5 linked regions of the Homo sapiens genome follow. The protein of the gene in region 1 purifies or fractionates together with the protein of each later gene. This does not show direct contact. Each region holds a gene or a part of one and is shown on either strand. Other genes may lie near its edges.

What was found.
Region 2: the proteins of MAP7D2 (region 1) and KIF20A purify together in Homo sapiens (affinity purification with mass spectrometry; 2 studies listed by BioGRID and IntAct, with this or other methods). This does not show direct contact.
Region 3: the proteins of MAP7D2 (region 1) and PIK3C2A purify together in Homo sapiens (affinity purification with mass spectrometry; one large-scale study listed by BioGRID and IntAct). This does not show direct contact.
Region 4: the proteins of MAP7D2 (region 1) and CENPF purify together in Homo sapiens (affinity purification with mass spectrometry; one large-scale study listed by BioGRID and IntAct). This does not show direct contact.
Region 5: the proteins of MAP7D2 (region 1) and BEND3 purify together in Homo sapiens (affinity purification with mass spectrometry; 2 studies listed by BioGRID and IntAct, with this or other methods). This does not show direct contact.

Annotation. Positions count from the first base shown.
Region 1 is NC_000023.11:20,110,397-20,113,919, forward strand, and holds part of MAP7D2 (MAP7 domain-containing protein 2), read right to left. Parts: intron 1-3,523. UniProt on the Homo sapiens protein: Microtubule-stabilizing protein that plays a role in the control of cell motility and neurite outgrowth via direct binding to the microtubule. Acts as a critical cofactor for kinesin transport.
Region 2 is NC_000005.10:138,185,147-138,188,225, reverse strand, and holds the end of KIF20A (kinesin-like protein KIF20A), read right to left. Parts: coding exon 3,029-3,079; intron 2,715-3,028; coding exon 2,516-2,714; intron 2,266-2,515; coding exon 2,174-2,265; intron 1,933-2,173; coding exon 1,795-1,932; intron 1,131-1,794; coding exon 813-1,130; 3' UTR 503-812; downstream 1-502. UniProt on the Homo sapiens protein: Mitotic kinesin required for chromosome passenger complex (CPC)-mediated cytokinesis. Following phosphorylation by PLK1, involved in recruitment of PLK1 to the central spindle. Interacts with guanosine triphosphate (GTP)-bound forms of RAB6A and RAB6B.
Region 3 is NC_000011.10:17,117,484-17,121,006, forward strand, and holds part of PIK3C2A (phosphatidylinositol 4-phosphate 3-kinase C2 domain-containing subunit alpha), read right to left. Parts: intron 2,492-3,523; coding exon 2,303-2,491; intron 1,831-2,302; coding exon 1,737-1,830; intron 1,257-1,736; coding exon 1,162-1,256; intron 189-1,161; coding exon 8-188; intron 1-7.
Region 4 is NC_000001.11:214,662,183-214,665,082, reverse strand, and holds the end of CENPF (centromere protein F), read right to left. Parts: intron 1,493-2,900; coding exon 1,289-1,492; 3' UTR 512-1,288; downstream 1-511. UniProt on the Homo sapiens protein: Required for kinetochore function and chromosome segregation in mitosis. Required for kinetochore localization of dynein, LIS1, NDE1 and NDEL1.
Region 5 is NC_000006.12:107,064,670-107,067,609, reverse strand, and holds the end of BEND3 (BEN domain-containing protein 3), read left to right. Parts: 3' UTR 1-2,428; downstream 2,429-2,940. UniProt on the Homo sapiens protein: Transcriptional repressor which associates with the NoRC (nucleolar remodeling complex) complex and plays a key role in repressing rDNA transcription.

The sequences.
Region 1 (3,523 bases):
GAGAATCACTTGAACCCAGGAAGCGAGGTTGCAGAGAGCAGAGATCGCACCACTGCACTCCAGCCTGGGTGACAGAGCAAGACTCTGTCTCAAAAAAACCAAAACAAAAACAAAAATGAGCCAGACATAGAGGTATATGCCTATAGTCCCAGCTCCTTGGAGGGGTTGAGGTGGGAGGATTGCTTGAACCTGGGAGGTCAAGGCTGCAGTGAGCTGAGATCGTGCCACTGTACTCCAGCCTGGGTGACAAAGTGAGACTCTGTCTCAAAAAAAAAAAAAAAAAAAAAGTATAAGGGAGGATGTGCATAGGTTACACGCAAATACTATACCATTTTATATCAGGGACTTGGGCATCCTTGATTTTTGGTGTTCTTGAGAGGTGCTGGAACAAATCCCCCATGGATACCAAGGAACGACTGTACTTGCCTATTACAGTAGATATTCTCCAAAAGGGCCACTAACAATTTCTCATTTCCCAGTAGGTGCATGCTGCCCTCACATCAACAGGTGGAGTCTATTTCCTCTCCCCTTGAATCTAGGCTGGCCTTGGGACTTGCTTTGACCACTGAACACAGCAAAAATGACATTCTGGGACTTCTATGTGCAGGCCTTAAGAGAACTGGCAACTTCTGCTTCCTTATTCAAAGCACAGCAGCCACGCTGTTAGAAAGTCCAGGACAGACTCTCTGTGATTAGGTACCTGGACAATGAGAGACCATCTTGGACATTTCGAGCCCAACTGAGCTCCCAGCAGACCAGCAGACTGTACCAGCATGAGGGACTCCAGGTGACCCCAAATGGAGCAGCAGAACTTCTCCAATAAGCCCAGGCAACCCCCAGAACTATGAGGGTTGGCACATAAGTGCTCAACAATTAGCGGCCATTACTGTCTGGGAAGCTAAAATGAACATGTGCAGTATATAACTGCAGACCGCTGTGTACATTACATTCAGGTTCTGAGCGCTTTGCAGGCCCTGTGGAGTGGGAATGTACAGGAGGTGAAAAGGCAAGGCTTCAGGGTAAAAGCGCGTCTTAGACCTGAAGGACAGAGTATGCAGAATATTGGTTTCTAAACCTCTAATGCATGAAGACCCACCCACAGACTTCTAGGCAATTGCAACGCGTGTCTGCACCAAAGGCTGAAGACTGTCCCGGCAGAAGTCTCGTGGTCTCTATATAGACAGATGGGTAGTTGTGAGGCCGGGGGAATGAAGAATGTCAGTGAGTATGGGGATTCTTTGTGGGGTGGTGAACATGTTCTAAAATTGATTGTGGTGATGGCTGCACAACTCTGTGAATATACTAAAAACCATCGAATTGTGCATTTTAAATGGGTGGACTATATGGCATATGAATTTTATACAGATGATAAAGCTGTTTATTTTTATTTTTGAGTCAGGCTCTCACTTTGTCACCCAGGCTGGAGTGCAGTGGCACAATCTCAGTTCACTGCAGCCTCGACCTCATGGGCTTAAGCAATCTTCCCGCCTCAGCCCCTAAAGTAGCTGGGACTACAGGTACGTGCCATCACGCCCAGCTAATTTTTCGTATTTTTTGTGGAGACAGGGTTTTGCCATGTTGCCCAGGCTGGTCTTGAACTCCTGAGTGCAAGCGATCTGTGGGCCTCAGCCTCCTGAAGTGCTAGGATTACAGGTGTGAACCACCACGACCAGCCATAAAGCTGTTATTACAGAAACACAGAGGGTGGGACGGATGAAGCGGGTGAGATGACAAAGGAGCAAGGAACATTCCAAAGGGTTGCCTGGGGGCTACAAGGCACCAACCTATTTGGCACTGAGAGGAAAAGCCAAGTCTTTTTAGGTGGTGAACGAACCCAGCACTGGTCAGAAGCTAGGAGCCCTGGGGACAGACCCTGTCATTCCAAGGATCTCAGGCATTTGGCATCACTGCTGTTGCCTCAAATGCTTTGCATGCATGCGGCTCACTCATACCTGTTTTCCTTTCGCTTAAATGACAACCCAAACTCTGCTAGTCACAAGGCTTTTAAAAACAGAAAAAGTTCCTAGGCAAGAGGAAAACAAATGCTTCCCAACAGAAAAGCAGATGGGGGCTTGCATTCAGACTGACCTCAGAGGCAGACGAGGCGGGATCCCAAGGCCTAGTCAGACCCAGAGCCTCAGATGCCAAGACGGTAAACTCCATATTTAAATGCGGCCGACTCAGATGTGAGGTGGACAGTGGACACTCCCTCCCTAAGGGCGGCTGCCCTCTACTACCCCCTCTTCCTTCTTCTGGTGAAATTCCTTTCAAAAGGGACCGGAGGGCAGGGCCATGGGAAGTTTTCAAATCTTGGAACTGCCGCCTGAGCCAACTTAGCACATGAACAGCCCCCTAAAACCAGGCAGTATCATTGTATCACCAGCCAATATATCTCATCAAATCCTCTCAACAAGACCCACCAGGATATTTACCAACAGCCCCCAGAAATCTCCATCTCTCGCCTGCCCAAATCAACCTTGTGAATCCTTCTGTTTTGTAAGGCAATCAATGTAATTACAAGAAGACAAAGTGTTCTTTTAAAACACTAGCCACTGCAGAAGATGGGGCACCTGAGAGGAAAACATCCTTTCATGTTGGAGAGGAAGCAGGTTAGAAATGACAGACTTTGAGCAGCTATGTCACCATGGCTAGGATATGAGAAGAGAAATCACAAAGACTTTCAGCAGTTTGTCCTGAAGGTCCTGCTAAGTCTAAGTCCTATGCTGCCATCAGTAAAAAAAGCCAGGAGCCACAAACCAAATACAACTTTGTAGGAAGTTTGTGGTCCTTCCTACTACCAAAGAGACTCTAGAGGCACAAACTCAACTTGTTCTCTTGTTCTTCTTGATCTGAACACTTTTTTTTTTAAGATCGGAGTCTCACTCTGTCGCCCGGGGTGGAGTGCAGTGGCTCAATCTCTGCTCACTGCAACCTCCGCCTCCCGGGTTCAAGCAATTCCCTGCCTCAGCCTCCCGAGTAGCTGGGATTACAGGTGCCTGCCACCATACCTGGCTAATTTTTGTATTTTTAGTAGAGACAGGGTTTCACCATCTTGGCCGGCCTGGTCTTGAACTCCTGACCTCGTGATCCGCCCGCCTCGGCCTCCCAAAGTGCTGGGATTACAGGCGTGAGCCACCACGCCCAGCGATCTGAACAGTTTTAGGATTAAAGCGTTCAAGAATGGTTTTAAACACAACTTTGAAAAAGGATGAAGAACTCCGATTTCTTGGGGACCCAATGCCTTTGCTACTCGGGCCCACTCTACTTTTTTTTTTATTTTACAATTTTTAATTTTTGTGGCTACATAGTAGGTAGTAGGTGCATATATTTCTGGGGTACATGAGATGTTTTGGTACAGGCATGCAATATGAAATAATCATATCATGCAAAACAGGTTAGCCATCCCCCTCAAGCATTTATCCTTTGTGTTACAAACAATCCAGTCATACTAGTAGTTATTTTTAAATGAACAATTAAATTATTATTGACTATAATTACCCTGTTGTGCTATCAAATACCAGGC
Region 2 (3,079 bases), on another chromosome or scaffold:
CACGGACATTTGGAAATAACATTGGTGATTATACAGACAAGAATAAACTCACTTCAAGCTGGTCTGTTTTAATAAATTTTCAACGTAATTGTCTATTTTTTTCCCTCCCATCTGCAACAGAATACATTTTTTTCAGCCTTTATCTAGATGAGGTAAAGGGAATCATTCTTATGGTGCTCTTGGAGAGTTTCAGGCCTGTGCATGTGTGTACAGCAGGAGGTAATATGCTATAATGTCTGCTGTAATATATTTGCACAGTAGATGCTATGGATCATTCTGAGCTCAGGGTCCAGACTTTATTCTTATTCCCAGAATTTTGTGTTACGTTTTTACCTCCTAACATATGACACTTCATCTTATATTAAGGAAGGTTTAGAATATCTAATACGACTTGAATTCATTTGTTACTAAGCCTTCTCAGGCAAGCTGTATACTAGTTACTGGTCTCCACTGCCATGCCTTTTCAAGGTTCCCATGGTCCAGAATGATGTTTGATTCTTAATTTTTCTGTCCCTTTTATAATTTGTTTTAATGATTTTGCTACATTTGGAATTCAATAAAAAATGTGAACAATAATATCTTTAATATAACTGTTTTTGTGTGCATAGAAATCATATAAGTAAATAAAAAAAAACAACAACATGAGATTACATAGGTGGTTATAATACAAAAGTGAGAAAAAAGCTAGTGTCTGAGTATTGCATCCTGGATATAATTCCTGATATATGGTAAAGCATAAAAGAGACCTATTTCTTCAGGAGAGTAGCTGACCCACCTCAGGGCCATGACTGCTCTTCTCTTTCCCCACAGCCTTAGTACTTTTTGCCAAAAGGCCCAGATTTGAGTAAAGGGGAACGCCGTGAGCGTAGGATCCGGGCATAAGGGCTGCAGTCTGTTGAGCTTTGGCAGGTTGGTGTTCGGGGAAGTAAATTTCGAAGGAATGGTTTCTTCCCTGGTGGTTGTTGGTTTGGTTGCTGATTTTCCTGGTTGGTACCAAGGCGCTTTTTGGCAGAAACCTGGCCTTGGAGTTTCAACACAGTATGATACTGCTCAGCAATACATGCTGCCTTCTTCCGAAGGTCCAGTTTCACTAGCACCATGTTGTTCTGCAGTTCAGCCAGAGTCTGGTCCTAAGGAAGATCAATAAAGTTATAGAAAACACTTTTGTCTGGTATATTAGAGAAACGAGAGGGCTAAGGGTAATACATACCATCCATTACTAGTTACTAACAACTGTTTCTTCAAAGATTAAAACTCTTTAAGGTCGGAGCTTATAACTGAATAAGGGGACATTTTCTGAGAACAAAACATAAGCAGTGCTGAATAGGACATCTTCTAACACATAAGGTAGTATGAGCTTGAGTAAATTTAATTTCTAAGTGCCTCAGTCTCTAAATGTCAAATTAAATGTTGAGTTTAGTTTAAGATACACAATTTTAACATTTTAATCTCTTTGGAATCAGGATGCATCTTACTGATGAGAAATTGTTACTTTTTTCTTAGTAGTACATAAAATAATGGTTTCTTATAATCAGTAGCATCTTAGATGAAATATGACAGTAACTACCTCCCTAAGGTGGTTGTGACAGAAAATGCCTATAAATTACTTAGCACAGTGCCTGGTACTTAGTAAATGCTTAACAAAGAATAGTTATTTTTATTTTGCAAATATACTGCTCTCACTATAAATTCAGCCTAAAAATCTTTACCTTTTTCTTCTGGTCCTCTTTCCTTTCTCACATATACACTGGAGTGGGCTGGTAGGACAGAAGTGGGTATATAGTTTGCCCTAACCTGTTTGATTAAGATGTCATCACAAGTGGTCAAGGCTTGACGAAGTTTTCCTGCCCCAGTGCTGTGGCAACAAGCTCTCTCTGCTGATTGGAGAGACTCACCAAGTTTCTGAAGCTCTGTCCGCAACAGCCTTATATTCTGAAAAAGGGGAAGTAGGAATCATATTGTGGCCAAGAGCAACCAGGATAATGATCTGGAGGGGTCAGGTAGCCATTTGAAGAGAAGTAAAATTAGAAAGGCTAGTCAGCTGAGTGAAATAGCCACTCTCCAGAACTGTGCACAAAAAACATCTTGTCTTCACATGAACCAGTGATAGAGTGTTGGATGTGGGAAATTGCCTTAGGTAAGAGTTTGGTAAACAGAGAATGGTGGTAATTACCTTCTGGCCCTCTTCTAACTTCTTGTCCACATCAATGGTGAAGGGCTTGGCTGAGGGTGGTGGTTCTAACATTTTCTGATACTTATGCAACTCTGAGGGAAGGAAACAGGAAACTTAAAATATGTGGGGTTTTTTTAGCCTTGGACTAACCTCTTTAACTGAGGTAACAGTAGCTTGCAGCAAATATAAAAAGTGAGGCTATGTGTATCCTAGATTGAAATGTCAGGGGGATGTAGCTTGCAGTTTAGGAAATTATGTTAGAGCAGGAGTTAGAAGGCCTGGGTTTAAGTAACAGCTCTTCCCTGAACCACTGTTATGTTTCCTGCCTGTCTCTTTCCTCACCTTCAGTGGTAGAGTTTAGCTCTGCTTTGCACTGCTGTAATTTAGCTTTAACCTCCTGAAGCTGCTGGGTGGAGGCAGAAGCTGCCAACCTTTGTGACCGCCGTAGGGCCAATTCAGACCCTGATTGCTGATGGGCCACTGACTGTTGTCTGGCTTCCTGCAAGAGAGCTTCTAGCTCTTCAATCTTTTCATCCCGCTCCTAAGAGGGAAGCAGAGAGCACAATTCTTTGCAGAGCCAGAAAAATATTGCTAAGACAGATGACTGAACAAACAAAGCACTTGTGACACTGATCCCTTGAAAACCTGTTGTTAGCACTTAATACGATTTCCTGGCCAACTAAACCCTTAATCAATTCACCAAACATAGATTGAACCCAAAGCACTATGGGGAATAGAGAAAAGGGAGTTATATATTCCTGCCCTTACTGGAGTAGTTTATAAAATCTCTTTACTTCAGGCAAGCTAGTGATGGAAATCTGAGCAGCTAATTGGAGCTGGCTCAGGGCAACTCACCTGAATCTCTTCTTGGTAAAAACTTGTCAGTGACTCCTTGAGGATATTTAG
Region 3 (3,523 bases), on another chromosome or scaffold:
TACATACCTGTCTGGCTGATCCACTAGCCTGCCTTACTTTTTCTGCTACTCCTCCTAAAAGCTGTACAAGTTTCGTCTGTTTTAGAAGTTCTTCTCTAAGTCGTTTTCCTCCTACTGACAGGAGAGCACCCAAAACATGTTCGTATCGGGTACTAAACTGTACATCATGCAGGGCATCTTTGAGAAGCCTAATACAGCAAAATATTTATGTTAGTCACGTCTTGGTTTTTTTTTTTTTTTTTTTTTTTTGAGACGGAGCCTCACTCGTCACCCAGGCTGGAGTGCAGTGGCGCCATCTCGGCTCACTGCAAGCTCTGCCTCCCGGGTTCACGCCATTCTCCTGCCTCAGCCTCCCGAATAGCTGGGACTATAGGCGCCCGCCACCACACCCGGCTAATTTTTTGTATTTTTAGTAGAGATGGGGTTTCACTGTGTTAGCCAGGATGGTCTCGATCTCCTGACCTTGTGATCCGCCCACTTCGGCCTCCCAAAGTGCTGGGATTACAGGCGTGAGCCACCATGCCCGGCCATGTTAGTCACTTCTAAGAACTAGGTGAACCTCTCTGAAAAATAACAAGTTCAATTTTTTTTTCTTTTTTTTTTTTTGAGACCAGGTCTGGCTCTGTTGCCCAGGCTGGAGTCCAGTGGCATGACCTTGCCTCACTGCAACCTCCACCTCCCAGGCTCGAGCAATCCTCCCACCTCAGCATCCCAACTAGCTGGGACCACAGGCACATGCCACCATGTTCGGCTAATTTTTTATATTTTTGGTAGAGATGAGGTTTCACCATGATTGTTAGGCTGGTCTTAAACTCCTGAGATCAAGCGATCCACTAGCTTCAGCCTCCCAAAGTGCTGGGATTACAAGCATGAGCCACCACGCTTGGCCTCAATTTTTGATAACCAGAAATGTATTTTAAGCTATATAAGCAAGTCGAAACCCATTCATTATTACAGAGCTATAAGACACCAAATTTTTGCAATGAGGGTTTTCAAATTTTTGCATTAGAGGGTAAATTTAGCTCCTTTAAAATAATACCTTCAATAAAATATCTTGTATCCACAATAAGTAGTGTGGCATACCATTTAGACTTACAGGGTATGCCATTTCTATAAATTCTAGGAATGGAAATACGGTAATCAATAAAATTTAAATCTTACCAATATAAATTGTGTGCTATCTGGATATTTCCCAATGCCCTGGACAAAAGGAATTGCACTAATGAACTATTCAAGTAAATTTCATATTTCAAAGCCTACAGTAAAAGAAAATAAGAATTATTAGTGGTCTAACCCATACTAAATTGTTCCAATAAAACTATCAAAAGAGAAACTATATAAAGCAAGTATTACTCTTACTGATGAAAGATGATACTTATAAAAATTAAATAGATGAATTAACCTATGCCAAACTAATTTAAATCAAACACAAAAGTATAGAGTAACATTCATTAGCTATGTTGAACTCACCAGTAAAGAAAAATCAAGGAAAAGCTCAAGTCTGGTTTGTTCTAAAAAGTCTGAAAACTAAAAATACAGGTGCCTATATACAATATTCAAATGGGGCAGATGACAATAGTGGGGAAAAAATTCACACTAAATCCAAATGCAATGCCCCTCAATGTTCCCACACTAAAAAACGACTTTTAATCTAAACAGAATGGGGATCCCTTAGCAAGTTCCCATAAAAAACTAGAGTGAAAGTATAAAGGGAGGTAATCTAGTAAAAAACTCACTTGTACAAACTGTGGAAGAAGATCTGTTAGCTCATCATCACTAATGGCCTCAATCCAGGTCACAGCTAGGGATCTTACTTCCTGATCAGCAAATCTAGAAGATTACCATAAAACCAAGATTGGACAGTGATTTCTTTCCAGTGAAGCTGTATTTTTTGAAAACACAATCTCAATCTGGTCCTGACAAAGAACACTAAGATATCTCTTTTATTCAAAAGCAATGTATTTCTTCTTTTTGTAAGAAGACAATCTTATTGTGCTATACAGATTCAATTTAGGGATTATTTAGGAATCTTAAGTTTATGAAAATTAATTCTGGCCCACATCATAAAAATATAAATTATTCAAAATTTACAACCTAACCCTTCCTTTAGGCTAGTTTTAAAGGACATGCAATGCTTTATTGACAACTTCAATGCAGAAGATATGTTTGTATAAATATACATTTACACATTTGGATTATATTGAATTGCTTTCATGTTAAAAGGAAAGGAAATACTTCTGGCAACATACCTTACTGGAAAAACTGACAATAAAACAAGAGCAAATAAATGTATTTGACTTACTTTGAATCAAGAAGTTCCAATGCAATTAGTGGGTACAATGCAGGCCACTGGTGAAGCAATGAGTAAGTTTTGGCAAGATTAACCCATTTCCAGTTTGGGGCGCTTGCTAATATTTTAGGAAGACAATTTGGGTGTTTGAAGCAATAATAACGTTTCTCCCATAAAAAAGCTTTATCTTCTTTAGAAAGTCTGCATATATAATAGAATTAAATTACTTCTCAGTGATAACATAATGATATAATCTCAATGATTAAAAATACAAAGAAGAAATTTATTTATTTGGGACAGCTACTTCTTCATAAAATCATTAATACTAATTTGGAATAGAAAAATGCAATGTATGGCAAATGCCAGTAATTAATGCTAATCCGGGAACTGAAAGGAATGATTATGTCTTGATAAAAGATGCTTAGTTAGGAAAATGAAGGATAATTCAGTATAATAAAAATTTATTGAGCTCTAACTAGATGCCAGGCACTAGAAATCAGAGTTGAAAAAGCAGATCCCACCCTAAGAGATAGCAAGGATTTCATCCATTTCGTACAAATAAAATCAAATGCTATGAAAAAAAAAATACTACTATAAAATTTTGGAACATATTTATACAGTTCAAATGAAAAGGACTTGTTTTGAAGATCCTAATTGTTTTAAGCTTAATCACAAATGTTTACGTGAATGAAATATTTCACCATTTTACTATCCATCCATATATATATAAATATATATATACATATACATGCACTGAAATTTATTCATTTCATGTGGAGTAATGAAAAAATTCAAACACTGCAAAAGGTATACAGTGAAATCTCTCTCCTTCTAATTCCCCTTCTAAGAGGCAACCACCTAAGCTTGTATGCTCTTCTAGAGAGTTTATTCATACAGAGGCACACACACGGATATATGTAGATCCTCTTTTTTCCTTTATTTTCGTGGTAATACACTATATACACTATTCTACTCCTGGTTTTCTTCAGCTAACCTATTTTAAAAATTAGTACATACAGCTATAATCTCATTTTTATTTATTTTATTTTTGTTTGAGATGGAGTCTCGCTCTGTCACCCAGGCTGGAATGCAGTGGCACGATCTTGGCTCACTGCAACCTCCGCCTCCCAGGTTCAAGCGATTCTCCTGCCTCAGCCTCCCAAGTAGCTGGGATTACAGGCATGTGCCACCATCTCAGCCTCCCAAAGTGCTGAGATTACAGGTGTGAGCCAC
Region 4 (2,900 bases), on another chromosome or scaffold:
AGCATTATCCAACAACAGAGGCCACCTTGCGAAGGACAACTTTTAAATATAAATGATGGTGCTTATCGGAATTTGTGCATCAATTTGGACTGAAAGCCAAGAACAAATGATCTTTTACTAGCGCATGCCCTGGGAAACTTTTTTACCCTGATTCAAGGATGTAAGAACTTGTTCAAATGTTTTTGGATCTGACATGGCTTATAATGCCTGCATGCTTTCAAAACTATATCATCATCAAGTGAGCTGGGAAATACCACATACTTGTATCCTTGATGATGTGGTTTAATGGGGACACAGAATGTAGGAGGCACTGGGCTGGACGTCTTATATTCCCATATACTCCTTATGACCCGTATTCCAAATTGTGTCTTTTAATACAACTAAAGATGCTAAGATCATTTGTTTAAAGATCTGTATCATTTGTTCAAACATTTTCACGTGTATAAGAGGCTGTTGTAATTAGCAAGAAATAGTACCAATATTCGAATGCCTTTACACTTAGGAATCATTCTTACAGAAAACGAAGGCGACTATTTTATTAGAAAACAAAGGCTATATGTTAATCCATCACCAGATACGACAATGCTTACCAAAGAACTGTAAAAAATTGGTCTAAAAACAGAAAAAAGCACAACGACAGACGCATGGTATAGCACACCTCTAGGAAGCCTGCAGCCCTCACTGGAAATAAACACATACCCACACACACATATGTACAGGTTTCATAAGCAAAGATGTCTAAAACAGATTGTAAGAGAAAGATAAACACTCCTACATGTATATGTGTGCACATTTTCCTTAAAAACACATAACATGCTTTTCCTTCATTTTACTCAGCTCTGAGAAATTCCCGATACAAAACTATTCCATGCCTCATACTACAGATAGAATATCATAAAGCAAAAGTCTACATTTTCCTAGGAGCTGTTAATTAGAAGAATAAAATGTGTTTTGCATTTTTTTAGTGTAAAACCCACATACAAACAGAGATTGTGATATAGTGCTTGTCATTTTAATTGTAACATATTACCAAAAAGCTTTATATACATAGCTTTATACTATTTACATTGCAGTAGAGGAATGGCAATGCTAACAGGTGATCAGTGCTTCCAAACTTTTTCAATACCTACACATGGGAGATCTAAAGAGTACAATATATTTAAGACTTCTAAGGAATTGTTTTCTCCTCACTAATAAAGCATGCCCTGACTAAAGAGAAGTCCTGTAGGCACAGCCTTATCTATTCAATGACTGGCACCTCCCAGGGGTACTGACACACAAAGTGCCTTCACTGGACCTTACAGTTCTCACTGCCGTTGGACTCCAGTCCAGCTTTGGGGCTGGGGACAAGTCGGCCTCGCTTGACCCTCAGGCCCTCTCTGGGGCTGTCAGTCGGACTTCTCTCAGGAAGATTATTGACTGGGACGGATTTCGTGGTGGGTTCTCGGAGGATGGTGCCTGAATCTACTGGGCTCCGCTGAGCAACTTTGACCTGCAACACAAACATCTCTGTTAGAGGTTCAATCACATTCACATTTCCACAACATGAAAAATAAAGCACTATGTCACTAAGTTTTAAATTAAGTTCTTCTTCTCTAGGAGTTATATATAATTGAAGTATTTCCTCTTCCTTGAGAACAGGCCCCATCTAACAGAGAACTTAGGAGGATACCAGGTACAACCTCTAACCAGTCATCAGACGTCCCTTGGCACCTCTGATGGCAAAGACTATGCCCTATTTACCTATGTATCCCTAGAGCCCACAACATGCTTGACCACATGGTACACATCCAGTGAATTCCTAAGTGAAAAACCTGCCTCTGTTGTCCTAACTAGCCATTCCTGTTGTTTAAAACAAGTGTAACCCAAATGAGTAATACTACCTCCACAGGGTGGAAAATTTTAAAATGACCAAGGACCAGTTCAGGGTATTTTAATCATTCTCCCTTTATGGCTGACTGTTTCCATATTGAATTTGGACTAGAGCAGAAGGGCAGCTATCTAACAATAAAGTCCGGAAAGAATAAATCCCCTCTCAAACATCCTGCCTTTTAAAGGAAAGAGATATCTCAGAAAATTTGAGACTTTAAGTAGATGAGAGAGTAAGGTAACTGGTGAGTGAAGATTTTTTGAAATTGGGTCAGGCTTAGTGGCTCACATCTATAGTTCCAGCTACTCAGGAGGCTGAGGCAAGAGGATCGCTTGAGCCCAGGAGTTTGAAGCTGCAGTGAGCCGTGATAGTGCCACTGCACTCCAGCCTGGGGGACAGAGCAAGATTTAAAAAAAAAAAAATTGAAATTTATATAGTAGTGAAAAAAGATACACGGTCAAAAAAGAGAAAAAAGTGCAAGAAAAATGAAGTATAGGAAAGCTTCACCTAAGCAAAGTTAAAGGCAAGAGTGGAAGATTCAAGTAGGAAGATCTTTCAAAGAGAAAGGAGAAGGGCCTCTTGCATAATGGACACAAGGATCTGTGTCCAGCACAGTTGCTGGGAAGTAACTACGTGACAGACACTCCCTGAGCAACTGACTTCCAGGGATCTCCTTCTGATGCAAGAAGAAAAGGGAATGGAAATTATTTTCCCATTTATATTCTTTCCATAGGAAGCATGTGATTTGAAAAAGGCAGTTAAATACTTTTCATTACATGAAACATAGTAAATCTGGCCAACAGATCAAATCCCAGGAAAGCTCACTTCTCCCTCAGAGTGTGTCCAGGACACTGAAAAGACGCAGCCTTGGAAGGTCAGGACTTAATGGAAAATTACCATCCATGGAAAGTTGAAGGAAAAAAATAAAACAAAGTTTTGCTGGTACTTTTTTTTTTTTTTAAAGAGAAATAGTGATTCCAAAGACAAGGTTTCCCTGGAACCCACCAGATGTACAAGAAACAAATCTTTA
Region 5 (2,940 bases), on another chromosome or scaffold:
TTGGAAGGACACAGGCCATTTTAGATGGGGTACACATGTCCCTTCCCAGGGTCCACTCAGAACTTTCCTCTTGGACTCTCTAGAAGGTCCTGCTGTCCTATACCTGGCCACCCCCTGCCTTGGGGGGCACATGTCTTCGTTCCCTCCCGACTGGGAATGTCAGGCTCCTGCAGGCCAGCTGCATGCTCTCCAGGAGCACCAACTGGGAAATCCCCTGACAGGTAAAGTCCTTTAAAATGATACTTTTACCTACCTAACTCTGGGGGCCAAATGCTTAAGAGGGAAAGGAAACAGTCGAATGCAAACAGTGTGTCATACCAGAGTCCTGGAAAATTTATTGAATCACACAGGGTAGTCATAGAACCCCTGTGGGATGGCTTAATATTTTGCTACTTTAAAATGCAGAGATAACAGAAACAATCTGGATTTTCTTCATTCAGCTGATAAGAACTTCAGTTCCAGTGGCTGTATGACATAATTTTGCCTGTACCCAGGAGCATTTTTTAAAATACAGGATTTTAAAAGCAATGTTAAGTTGCTGATCTAACTAGTAAATTTGCTCCTAAGTGTCATTTACAGATTATTTCTGTTGAAACTGCAAACAGATTTAGAAAGGCACAGGGACTGAATGACTCTCTGTCTTACACAGCTACTCATGCACACACGCACTGCTTACTAAAAGCTGAAGTGAGATGAAGGGGGCCTACACGAATAACAAGTTCAACTTCTTTGTGCCTGGAAAGGAGGGACTGGAGCAGCCAGGAGACTCACTTTCCCCCCTCGCTTGGGCCCTTCTCTATGCCTTAGTCTCTCCAGCACATGCACACAGCATGCACACACACGCACCCTACCCAAAGACAGCTGTGGCCCTCTCCCACCACCTCCCCCTTCCCACCGCTGGTTGTTGGGGGCTGGAGGCGGGAGGTCCCATGGAATTTGTTCTGGTTTCTAGGATGTAAACGAGGACTCCAAGCCATGAATTGCCCTGCTTTCTAGAGGGTGGAATGTTGACCCTGCAACTTTAGAAGCACAATCATTTATTAATAATTTTTTTGAAACTCCCATCTACCCCTGTTAGAGAAATCAACAGGTTCTAGGAATTAAATATGTCTCTTTGTAACCCAGAGCATGTTCAATTTTTGGAAACCGTATTTCAGTGATTTTCTTAATACCTTACATGTGTAGGGCATCTTCCCCCAGAATCTTACAGTCCCTTTCTGTGAAGAGAAGTGGACACACGTGGGAACTCTCACCATCTCTGGACTGTCGTCAGGAAACGCCTGCAGGTCCTTGCCCTGTCTGTATGGTGTCCTCACTTCTCCATCCATACAGGTGGCTCCAGTGGGCATTTTTTTATTTTAAATTTTTTACATGAAGCAATAGAAGTACAAAATACTTATTTTTTCAAAATTTAATGTGTTCCATGAAACCTGTTGGCAGTCGCTTTCCTTCCCCCACATCTAAATTCTTTGGTTTTTAGTTGTTTGTTTTTTGGATTTTTTTTTTTTTTTTTTTGGCCTTGTATCCCAAGGACTAAAAGATTAGCACAGACACGTTTTGATGTTGAATGAACTAGTAAGTCACAGTAGGTGGTAGTCTTCATTGATTTCTCTGTAAGTTTTTAAAGAATGTATGAAGATAGTCACGAATGTACTGAGTGTTCGCATCCCCCTTCAGTTCACCTTGGCTGTGTCTACAGGACAACAAATGTTTGACAGGGAATAAAGTCGTGTCTGGTGTCATTTGCGCTAGCGTGCCCCTCCCCTTTCGGTGTTGGCTCCAAACCTTCCTTTCCTTTTATGTTTGTGGGGAGTGGGGAACCACATCAGCAGCAATCATCAACCAACCAACCAATGGGATCTACTTAGTGGTGAATAGATTGGCTATTTAATTGGTAAAAGTTGCTGGTCTGACCACACCACAGCATGACCACTGGGTTCATTTAGAGATGGCCTCCGTTTCCAACGTTCCCCACAAATGTTTGCTTCTTTCCCAGTCAAGAGGGGATCTCGAGACTCCCGAGTGGAGGTCGTGAGCTTGCACCCCGCCTGGCTGTGTAGATCGACTGTATAGATACATGAAGTGGGGGTGAGGGCCAAGGGGCTATTACTGCTGTTGGGAAATACTTGCCTCTCGTAGATCCAGCCTTAATGTTTTTCTGACATCCTAGTAATAGCAGACCCTGCACAAAGTGGATATCAGACTTAATACTGTGAGGAGACAAAATAATGAGAATAGTTTTACCAAAGATAATGAAATCTCGCATCATGTCTGCATTTTACCATAGATTGGAGTGCATCCTTAGGAAACTGAATGTAACAAAAACCCAGGACATTTTTGGAAATTGTATGCTCTCTAGCAACTTTGTGTGAATTTTTATACAAACACTGTTTTATGAGTTATATAAAATGTTATAAAAATAGAAAAACATGGTCTCGTAACATGTTATTTTCTTAGAGCACTGGTCTCTCAGAATATGTCTTGGTCTATTTGTCTTTGTGCGTGGCCTCCTCACCCACCTCCCAGGGAAGAACGTGAATATTCCGGGGGATTTCAGCTTCTGGGGCTTCCATACTCTACGTGTCAGGGGTACAGCTCATAGGATTTCAGTTTGGCCACAGCTGAATGAATGAGAAATTGCCAGATAAATCCTCCAAACCATTTCTCCACAAACCACTTCCTGGCCATGTAGTGGGAGGCTTGTTTGACCTTTTTTAACCTTTCCTGGTCAGGTGCCAGGCCAGTCCTGCAAAGCCAGCAGAGTTTCATTTTCATTTAACCGCCTTTTTTTTTTTCACTTTGGATCAAATGGGTTTTAGTTTCCCGCCGCCCCAACCCTGCTAGAGTGCAGTGGTATAATCATGGCTCACTGCAGCCTCGACTTCCTGGGCTCAAGTGATCTTCCTGCCACAGACTCCTAAGTAGCTGGGACTACAGGCC